3 linked regions of the Homo sapiens genome follow. The protein of the gene in region 2 purifies or fractionates together with the protein of the main gene of each other region. This does not show direct contact. Each region holds a gene or a part of one and is shown on either strand. Other genes may lie near its edges.

What was found.
Region 1: the proteins of WDR81 (region 2) and UTP4 purify together in Homo sapiens (tandem affinity purification; one study listed by IntAct). This does not show direct contact.
Region 3: the proteins of WDR81 (region 2) and CHIA purify together in Homo sapiens (co-immunoprecipitation; one large-scale study listed by IntAct). This does not show direct contact.

What each region holds. Positions count from the first base shown.
Region 1 is NC_000016.10:69,153,149-69,156,648, reverse strand, and holds part of UTP4 (U3 small nucleolar RNA-associated protein 4 homolog), read right to left. Parts: intron 3,066-3,500; coding exon 2,969-3,065; intron 2,257-2,968; coding exon 2,192-2,256; intron 779-2,191; coding exon 656-778; intron 1-655. UniProt on the Homo sapiens protein: Ribosome biogenesis factor. Involved in nucleolar processing of pre-18S ribosomal RNA. Part of the small subunit (SSU) processome, first precursor of the small eukaryotic ribosomal subunit.
Region 2 is NC_000017.11:1,731,204-1,734,703, reverse strand, and holds part of WDR81 (WD repeat-containing protein 81), read right to left. Parts: coding exon 3,446-3,500; intron 2,380-3,445; coding exon 2,214-2,379; intron 2,039-2,213; coding exon 1,873-2,038; intron 1,178-1,872; coding exon 488-1,177; coding exon of another isoform or gene 474-487; intron 1-473. UniProt on the Homo sapiens protein: Functions as a negative regulator of the PI3 kinase/PI3K activity associated with endosomal membranes via BECN1, a core subunit of the PI3K complex.
Region 3 is NC_000001.11:111,314,851-111,317,956, forward strand, and holds part of CHIA (acidic mammalian chitinase isoform c precursor), read left to right. Parts: intron 1-419; coding exon 420-585; intron 586-855; exon of another isoform or gene 856-1,022; intron 1,023-2,830; coding exon 2,831-2,955; intron 2,956-3,106.

The DNA of each region.
Region 1 (3,500 bases), on a different chromosome or scaffold from region 2:
CATCTCTACTAAAAATACAAAAAGTAGCCAGGCCTGGTGGTGGGCACCTGTAATCCCAGCTACTCGGGAGGCTGAGGCAGGAGAATGGCTTGAACCCGAGAGGCAGAGATTGCGGTGAGCTGAGGTGGTGCCATTGCACTCCAGCCTGGGTGACAAGAGTGAAACTCGGTCAAAAAAAAAAAAAAGGCTGGGTGCGGTGGCTCACGCCTGTAATGCCAGCACCCAGCACTTTGGGAGGCTGAGGCGGGTGAATCACTTGAGGTCAGGAGTTCAGGACCAGCATGGCCAACGGGTGGTGAAACTCCATCTCTACTAAAAATACAAAAATCAGCCAGGTGTGGTGGTGGGTGCTTGTAATCCCAGGTACTCGGGAGACTGAAGCACAGGAATCGCTTGAACCCAAGAGGCGGAGGTTGCAGTGGGCCAAGACTGTGCCATTGCACTACAGCCTGGGTGACAAGAGCAAAACTCCGTCTCAAAAAAAAAAAAAAAAAGAAAGAAAGAAATAAAACACTGTTTCATAACAGCCTTCTCCAAATCTCCAAATAGTTTTTAACTGAGCAAGGATTCACATCCAGTTGATTTCCACTTCACACAAAAATGACATATTTAGGAAGTTTCCTCTTATGTGACCAGATATTGGACTATCACTTACCCTTTTGAGGCTTATGTTGTCATGTTCATAATTCAGCCGATAGAGAAAAAACCGAGAAACTGTAGAATAGGCTATCCAACTTCCACATGGGGAGATACAGCTACAGATAATGTTCTCAGGACCCTGGCAATATCAGGAATCAAGATGAATGTGCAATTAAACTTCACATAACAAGGTGCACTGGGACATGACGCCTCAAGCTCTTGCCACTCTGGACATACCCACAGATATCTACACATAATCTCGATCCTCGTGTGGTCTGCATTAATATGATTATTTCAGAGGCAGAGCACCTAAAAGGCATGGCTTTGATTTCCAAATCCAAGAATGGAGGTCTATTCTTATTTTGGCCCTTTGAATACTTCATAGATAGCCTCATACTAGACCCCAACTTCAGAAACCTGAGCAGGGAGGCATTTACTGAAGGAAAGCTCTGGAGGATAGGTGGTTTGAAGTACTTATTTTCTGTTTTGTGTACGGCGTTCTGCTTTAAAGACTTCTAAGAAATAGCAAATGAAGAACATTTGAAGGCCAGGTACAGTGGGTCATGCCTGTAATCCCAGCACTTTGGGAGGCTGAGGTGGAGGATTGCTTGAGCCCAGGAGTTCAAGACCTGTCTGGACAACATGGTGAAACCCTGACTCTACAAAAAATTAGCCGGGCATGGTGGTGCACACCTGTAGTCCCAGCTACCTGGGAGGGTGAAGTGGTAGGATCACCTGAGCCTGGGAGGTTGAGGCTGCAGTGAGCCGTGACCGTGCCACTGCTCTCCAGCCTGGATAACACAATGAGACCCTGCCTCAAAAAAGTAAGCAAACAAACAAAAAAACCAACCAACTAACCAAACAAAAAAGAATCTGGAGAATAAAGAAAAGTTGAATGTAACATGTATGTAGTTTTTAAAAACTCACAAAATGATTTTTTTTTCATTGTATACCCTTTTGTACTATTTGAGTTTTTAAAAATATGCACATGGCTGGGCGCGGTGGCTCACGCCTATAATCCCAGCACTTTGGGAGGCCAAGGCGGGCGGATCACCTGAGGTCGGGAGTTCAAGACCAGCCTGACCAACCCCATCTCTACTAAAAATACAAAAAATTAGCCGGGCGTGGTGGCGCATGCATGTAATCCCAGCTACTTGGGGGGCTAAAGCAGGAGAATCGCTTGAACCCAGGAGGCGGAGGTTTCGGTGAGCTGAGGTGGTGCCATTGCACTCCAGCTTGGGCAACAAGAGTGAAACTCCGTCTCAAAAATAAATAAATAAATAAATAAATAAATAAATAAATAAAAGCACATTATTTTCATAATAATATCAAAAGAAGAGAAACCTATTTCCTGTATACATCCATCTAATAAATCCTCAACGTCCTACTTATAATCACAGGAAACCCAGTCCTGGTGACACAGTCCTTCATTCAAATAGTTTTAGAATTTATACAATTTATGATGCAAACTAAGTAACCTCAAAATTCAGAATGGGAATTATGAGCCTAGAATTCAGGCTCTAGAATTCAGAGCCTAAACAAACTTCCTTACCTTTGTCTTTAGGTGCAGTAAATGATCTGCATTTTTAGAGAGTGGAAGAGTATCCCCATTCTTGCCTGAAACAAGAAACTTCCCTGAGATTTTTCTTATGAAAGAAAGAGTATTTGTACATTTTTCTTCTAAAAAGTTACTCCTTGGAAAAATGGAATCTCTATCAGTGGGAAATCAGAAAAATACAAGCTCACTGAGTAAGCTCACAATTTTTGAGGGGTATATGAAGAGAAAGCAGTGAGTACTTCTTTTGCTTCTATCCTCTGATACATCACTAATTCCCTGAAGCTCTAGTCCATAGCCAGGGACACAGGTGGAGTTTGTGTGGCCTCGATTTTAATCCACTGCAAATGAGAGGACTCAAACATTTCCTTAATAAGTCAAAAAGGCCACTAGGCTGTCACTCCAATAAGATCCATGTGATCTTCTTTTTCTACAGGATTATCATTACCCATCATTAAATCTTGTTGTTTTTCAACAGCCTGTTTTCACCTCAGTTAAGCTAGCGCAAACTACGATTCTTCAACCCTTACCTTGACTACACCCTGCAGCGCACCACCTAGAGCCATAAACTTTTAAGAGATGATCCAATATCCTGCTAAAGATTCTAATACTCTAAACAGCTTATTTGCTTTATCTAATGGGTGGGAAAACCATTAGTTAAAATGGACACAAAAGTCTACTTCAGTTTTTCTATAAGCAGAATTCCAACCGCAATTCTGATTTCTGGCTTCTCTCTCCAGTTTTCTTATTGAAAAAAACGTGCTCCCATCTTACCTGTTGCAACTGTGGATCCCAGTCGCCAAAGTTCTAAGTGATGAGCAAACTGGAAGAGGAGAAGCTGCCTCTTTTTAGAACAGGAGATGAGACATCGCTATATCCAAGAATCAAGAAGTTAAAAAAATAAGTCAGGGTCATCTACTGCCTTAGTACCAGATACAGTAGCACCACCTTAGCACATTTTTTACTGCTGAAATCCATTTCCTTGATAAATATTTCCTAAGTACTCCCATATGCCAGGCACTGCCCTGAGATCTATGAAGACGATGATGAATTAAAACATAGCTACTGCTCTCAACATGCTTCTAAAGGGGTGACACAGAATTAAATCAGCAATTAGACTTCAGTGTGCCAAGAATTTTAACACGGCTAAACACAGTATGTACTGAAAAATAAGGAGACAGGACATCTAACCTAGCTGTGTGGTGGTAAATACAGAAGCCCAGATGAGGTTCACTGGGAAAGACCAGTCAGGCGAAGGAGGCAGGGCAGAACATTCTGAGGAGGGTGATGGCATGTGACATAGCTC
Region 2 (3,500 bases):
GAGTTTGAGAGATTCTCCTGCCTCAGCCTCCTGTGTAGTTGGGAGTACAGGCACCCGCCACCACGCCCGGCTAATTTTTGTATTTTTAGTAGAGACGGGGTTTCACCATGTTAGCCAGGATGATCTCGATCTCCTGACCTCGTGATCCACCCGCCTCAGCCTCCCAAAGTGCTGGGATTACAGGCGTGAGCCACTGCGCCCGGCTGTGTGTTATCTTCTACGCCAGTTTTTCTGATTCTCAGTTTATAGATGGGAAAGGAGACGCTTCCAGCAGCAGGAACTTGCTCAAGGTCACTCAGCAAGTAAGCCGGTGGAGCCAATTCAGACTCAAGTCTAACAGATTCGAAGCCCTAACTGTTCTCCTAGGCGGCCTCGCTGGGTCTCCCCAAACTCCGCAGCATTACAGCCCCACCCTCGGGCCCCCTTCCTGGAGGCCTGGTGGGGCGCAGGAGCAGGAAGAGAACAGGCCTCACCTGGGCCCGCTCACCTGTGAAGGGGTCCCAGACGTGCACAGCCCCGTCACAGCTCACCACGTGCTGCGGGGCCTCAAGCTGGCCCACGAAGAAGACGCTCTTGCGGTGCTGGGTGTAGACGAGGCGTGGGGCCGTCTCGCTGGTCCCGTCGCCGTAGTTGTACAGCGGCCAGAGGCGCACGGTACGATCCTTGCTGCCGCTCAGGAAGAAGTCCTCGCTGCTTAGGGGTGCCACGCACTTGACGGCCCCCGAGTGGCCCGGGAAGCTCTGCAGGCGGATCTGGTGGAAGTGAAAGTGGGCATCCTGCTGGCTCACGCCGATCTCGTACTGCCAGTACGCCAGCCAGTTTCCGCTCAGCCCGTGCACGCTCCGCGGCAGCTCCTGCTTCAGGGCGTTGTCGTCGCTCCCGCTGCCCAGGCCCCCGCCACCCACCCCCGAGATGGGGCCCAGTGGTCCGGGGTTCTCAGGCCGAGAGTCATTGGGGATCTGAATGCGGTTCCCCACCAGGACGCTCCCAAAGGTCCCTGAGTGGCCGTCATCCTGAGGGCAGCCCCCACCATGGGGGTCCCACTCGGGCCCGGTGCCGGGCATGGTGGGCTCCACGCTGGCAGGGTTGCGACTGCTGGGGCTGATGCTCTCCAAGTACAGCGCCGCCAGCTCCCCAACCAGCTCGTGGTTGGGGATGATTTTCCGGATGATGTCACCTGGATAGGAGTGGGAGAGGTCCTGAGACAGGGAAGATGGCAGGCGGCTGCTATCACCCATCCAAGGACTCGGGAGCCACAGAAGATGGGGCAGGAACTGGCTCTGCAACTCTGGGCAAGTAACTCTGTCTCTGAGCCTCAGTTTCCTCCTCAGTGAAATGTGGATTCATTCCGTTGTGATGTACACATGAGCATCTTCTATATGTGCCGTGCCGTGCTGGGCACTAGGAATAGAATATGGAACAAGACAGGTGGTGCCCTGGCCTCCCAAGCTTAGATTTCAGTGGCAGGATGATAACAGGTGTAACCACAAGGCTGTCTGTCCTCTCCAGGGAGATGACACGCTGAAACGATCAGCACAGCACCGTGCAGGGCCCAGAGGGGAAGCTTCGTAAACAGGAGGCCACTCCTTCCCTCTCGCCAGCTCCTGCGGACCGCCAGTCCACCTCCCTGACTCTCCTGCCTTCCCCAGGGACACTACAGGCCAGCTTCTGGGCCTCTCTTGCTGGCTACTGCTCAGTCCTTGTTTGTGTGTCACCTTGGGGGTAGGGGTCTGAGGCCAAATCCCTTTGCTCTCACCCATCCTGCTGGCTCTTAGAACCCACTGCTGACTCTGGGGCAAGGGCAGAGAATGGGGCCTCCCAAGGGAGGAGACAGCCACGAAGACTGTGATGGGGAACGTGATGGGGCAGTACCCAACAGGCAGGAGAAGGGCACGTAGATTGTGTATGCCATCTCCAGGGTGAACACCTTCTGCAGCTCGTCCAGCAGGGCGGGGTCCACGGGCCGCTGCTGCCCATCAGAGAAGACCACCTGTGGCAGCTGGCCCTCACCACGGCCCGCAGGGTCCAGCTTCAGATCCTATGAGCAAGACACCCAGGGGGTCAGCCGGGTCCACAGCTCCCACCCTGGCCCACCCTGGTCCTCGCCACGGCCCGCGGAGTCCAGCTTCAGATCCTATGAGCAAGATGCCCAGGGGGTCACCCAGGTCCACAGCCCCCGCCCCAGCCCGCCCTGGCCCAGCAGATCTGCCCACCTGTTGCCGAAGCTCATGCAGCTGAGAGAAGACCTGGAAAAAGGTGGCCACGGGCTCGCTCAGGTGCTGCTGGACCATCTCCTGTCCAATGCGCAGGCAGATGAGGGCGATGAGGCTGATGGTTTTCACACACAGGATGGTCCGAGCCTGGGCCCCACTTGGGAACCTGGAAACAGAGCTCATGAGCTCCAGCCCGCCGTTCTGCAGGACTTGACCAGAATCTAGCAAAATCTTTATTTATTTTTATTTTTATTGAGATGGAGTCTTGCTCTGTCATCCAGGCTGGAGTGCAGTGGTGCGATCTCGGCTCACTGCAACCTCTGCCTCCCGGGTTCAAGCGATTCTCCTGCCTCAGTCTCCCGAGTAGCTGGGACTACAGGCATGAGCCACCATACCCGGCTAATTTTTTTTGTATTTTTAGTAGAGACAGGGTTTTGCCATATTGGCCAGGCTGGTCTCGAACTCCTGACCTCAAGCGATCCACCCACCTTGGCCTCCCAAAGTGCTGGGATTACAGGCATGAGCCACAGCACCCAGCATATATATATACTTTTTTTTTTTTTTGAGACAGAGTCTTGCTCTGTCGCCTAGGCTGCAGTACAATGGCGTGATCTCAGCTCACTGCAACCTCCGCTTCCTGGGTTCAAGCAATTCTCCCGCCTCAGCCTCCTGAGAACCTGGGATTGCAGCCTCCCGAGAACCTGGGATTGCAGGCACCTGCTGCCATGCCCAGCGAAGATTTTGTATTTTTAGTGGAGACGGGGTTTCACCATGTTGGCCAGGTGGGTCTCAAACTCCTGACCTCGTGATCCACCCGCCTTGGCCCCCCAAAGTGCTGGGATTACAGGGGTGAGACACCACGCTCGGCCTTTATATATATTTTTAGAGAGGGGGTCTCATTTTGTTGCCCAGGCTGGTCTTGAACTCCTGGGCTCAAGCAATCTTCCCGCCTCAGCCTCTCAAAGTGCTGGGATTACAGGCATGAGCCACCGTGCCCGGACATATCAAAAGCTTTAAATGAAAGAGCTCCAAGACCAACTGGTCCAAACCAGATGAGGAAACTGAGGCACAGGAAAAGGGTGTGGTTTGCTCAGGGTCACACAGCCGGGATCAAAACCAGGACTCTTGACACCCAGTCCAGTGTTACGTCCTCTCCCCTGAGCTTCCCACCCCCTCCTGGGCAGCCCCTCCGCTGGGCCGGTCCCCCTACATCAGCTGGGGCAGAGGCCTACCCCGTGACGAGGGAGGTGAGGAAGCTGAGCACGGGCAGCAGGACCTCATGGCTGA
Region 3 (3,106 bases), on a different chromosome or scaffold from region 2:
TCTTCTTAAAGTATTTCAAGAGTACAAACCCTGAGGACAGTGTTATAATGCTTCCCTCTATTTATCTTCTGGTGGGGGGAGGAATGAGAAAATCACACAAATAAACAAGAGGACTTCTTGGAGGGTACATGTTTGGGGAGGGAACACAGTGTGCTGGGTTTGCCAGGTATCCAAAGAAACAAGGGCAACTTGGGAGAAAGAGCAGAGTTGGGGGGATAACAGAATAAAGGGAATGTTAAGATACCATGGCTGGGAAGAGTAGTGATTACAAAGGAAGGAGAGGAGAAAACCAAGAACATGCTTTACTCTGGGCTGTGGGTCCTGATGAAGGGCTCTGAGGCAGGAATTGAGAGCTTGATTTTACTCCAAGGTGTTGGGACCACCAAGGTCTCACCCTGCCTTCTTTGGGTCTCCCTCAGTTTCACTGCCATGGTTTCTACTCCTGAGAACCGCCAGACTTTCATCACCTCAGTCATCAAATTCCTGCGCCAGTATGAGTTTGACGGGCTGGACTTTGACTGGGAGTACCCTGGCTCTCGTGGGAGCCCTCCTCAGGACAAGCATCTCTTCACTGTCCTGGTGCAGGTGGGGAAGGAAGTCCCAGTCTTTAGCCCAAAAAGATTCAAAGTCTTTCTTTCCGAGGAGAATTGGGTGGCTCTAGGGTAAAACAAAACTTGAATTTAAACTGATAGAATATTAGCATTGCAAAGAGTCTTATATATCGTGCGTTCATTAAACAAACATTTAATGGCAACAACAAAGCAACATGTGAGCTCTGTGCCAGGCACTGCTCTACATGTTGTTTTAAGAACCATAACTCATTTCATCTTCATATTTACTCTATGGCATACATACTATAAGTGTTATAATCTTTATTTTACAGATGAGGAAACTAAAGTACAGAGAGGATTTAAGCAACTTGCCCAAGATCACACAACTAGTAGGAATCATAACTTCCTCTGCAGTTTGGCCACAGAGTCCATTGCTTCTAAGCATTACACTAGGCTGCCCGTTATTACTGAGTACATATTCTGTGGCAGACATTGTCAGGCTAAATATAAGAATAAGACACTATCCTTGGCTTTGAAGAACTTCTTCTGAGGTGGAAGACTGAAAGAATATGAACAATGGCAATGCATTGTGATAAATGCCATGTTAGAGGTCTGCAGAGTACAAAAGTAACAAGGAAAGAGGGTAACTAATTCTGCTCTGGGGCAGGATCAGAAAGTGTTTCCTAGAGAAAGTGATGCTTGGGCTCAGTCTTGAAAGAAACTGGTGTTAACCAATTAAGTGAGGATGGGAATGGCACAAATGATATACAGATAAGTGTGAGCAAGTGGGTGATAATGGCTGTGAAGTTGCATGAAGAACCAGATAATGTGAGAACTTTTATATTATGTTCAGGAATTTGCACTTTACCTTTGACACAATGGGACTGTTTTGAAGAATTTTAAATAGTAGAGAGCTGGCTTTTACCATAGAGGATAAATTAGAAGGAGATGAGAAGTCATGGATAGAATTAGGAGGTTATTGCAGTAAATCAAGCAAGAAATGATCAGGGCCCCAACAAAGGCTCTAACACTGAGGGAAGAAGAGGATGTATATAAGAGATATCAAGAGGATAGAATCAATAGGATTTGGAGATCAACTGGAAATAGGAAATGGAGAGGACCTCCAATTTTCTGACTTTGAGGATGGGTTTGATTTTAATGCTATTAACTAAGATGGTAAATACAGGAAGAAGTGTAGATTTGAAAGAAGAAGAATTGACCTTGAACTTGATGAGTATGAGGTATCTGTAGAGCATCCTAACAGAGTGCCCAGTAGGCATCAGATAAATATCAATCTGGAGTTCAGGACAAAAAAGCTTGATATACTTGGTTTTTAGACTTACTGTCTCCCAAGACAGATTGTTTGCTATTCCATTCTATGTAACAGATCGTCACCCAGCCTCTGAATAGTTTCAATGTTAAGTAATAGGTGAAAAGTCAATTTACTTACTTGTTGAATTGCCCTAATGATCATAAAGGAATATCTCTTTCTTGGCTGGAACATGCCTCTAGTCATAATTTATAACTTCTGGTCATTGTTTCTAGTTCTTCCTGCTGAAGCAACAGAGAATAAGACTGCATCTTTTGCAATATATGGGCTTAATGTCTTAAGACAGCTGTAAATACCTTGCCTATAATTTCTCTTATTCCAGTTAAATATCTTAATGCCTTCAATCAATAACCGCATGACAATTTTCAGAGCCAGCCTTCACTGGAACATACTCTGGCGCACCCTAATAGTGCAATTATAAGAACTAAACCCAGTACTCCAAATGAGATTACAGTCGCACAGATACAGGTGGATTAATCTCTAGTATTGAATGGGAACCTATCATCTAGCTGTTACCACCTTCCTTATTGGCCAATACACCATTTTATTTGATGGGATGTCAGTCCTATAAAGTAGTTCATCTACTTTATGAAACAAATTTCTATACTGCTGGATGTAGGGTATCACTGCAACTAGAGCTTCAAAGTATAGAGATACAATGGAGCCCTGATGGTCATCTGGGACCTGGGTTTTGGTCATGACCTACCTACTAACTCAGTGTGGGACTTTGGTGAAGTGTCCTAACTCTTATGCATATTAGATAGCCAGAAAATTCAATAATATTATCTATCCGATCTACTTTATTTGGTTGTTGAGAGACTAAAGTAAAATAAAATATGTGAAAGCAATTTAAGAGAGAGAAGCATTATACAGACATATGTTTATTAGTATTATTTAAGGAGCTAAAATCAGCATCATAGATGTCCTATTATGCCTTATTATTCTGTAGGAAATGCGTGAAGCTTTTGAGCAGGAGGCCAAGCAGATCAACAAGCCCAGGCTGATGGTCACTGCTGCAGTAGCTGCTGGCATCTCCAATATCCAGTCTGGCTATGAGATCCCCCAACTGTCACAGTGAGTGATGTGCCTTATCTTCAAACTCCTGGAGGTGTCACTCGGGCACACTAGACTTGTCCTTGGTCTGGCTTGCTATTCAGGGACCTTGTTTAGGAGACTTTAGAAGTGGTGTCCTGTGCCTGCATAGGTGTGGGAAATGACCATCAGA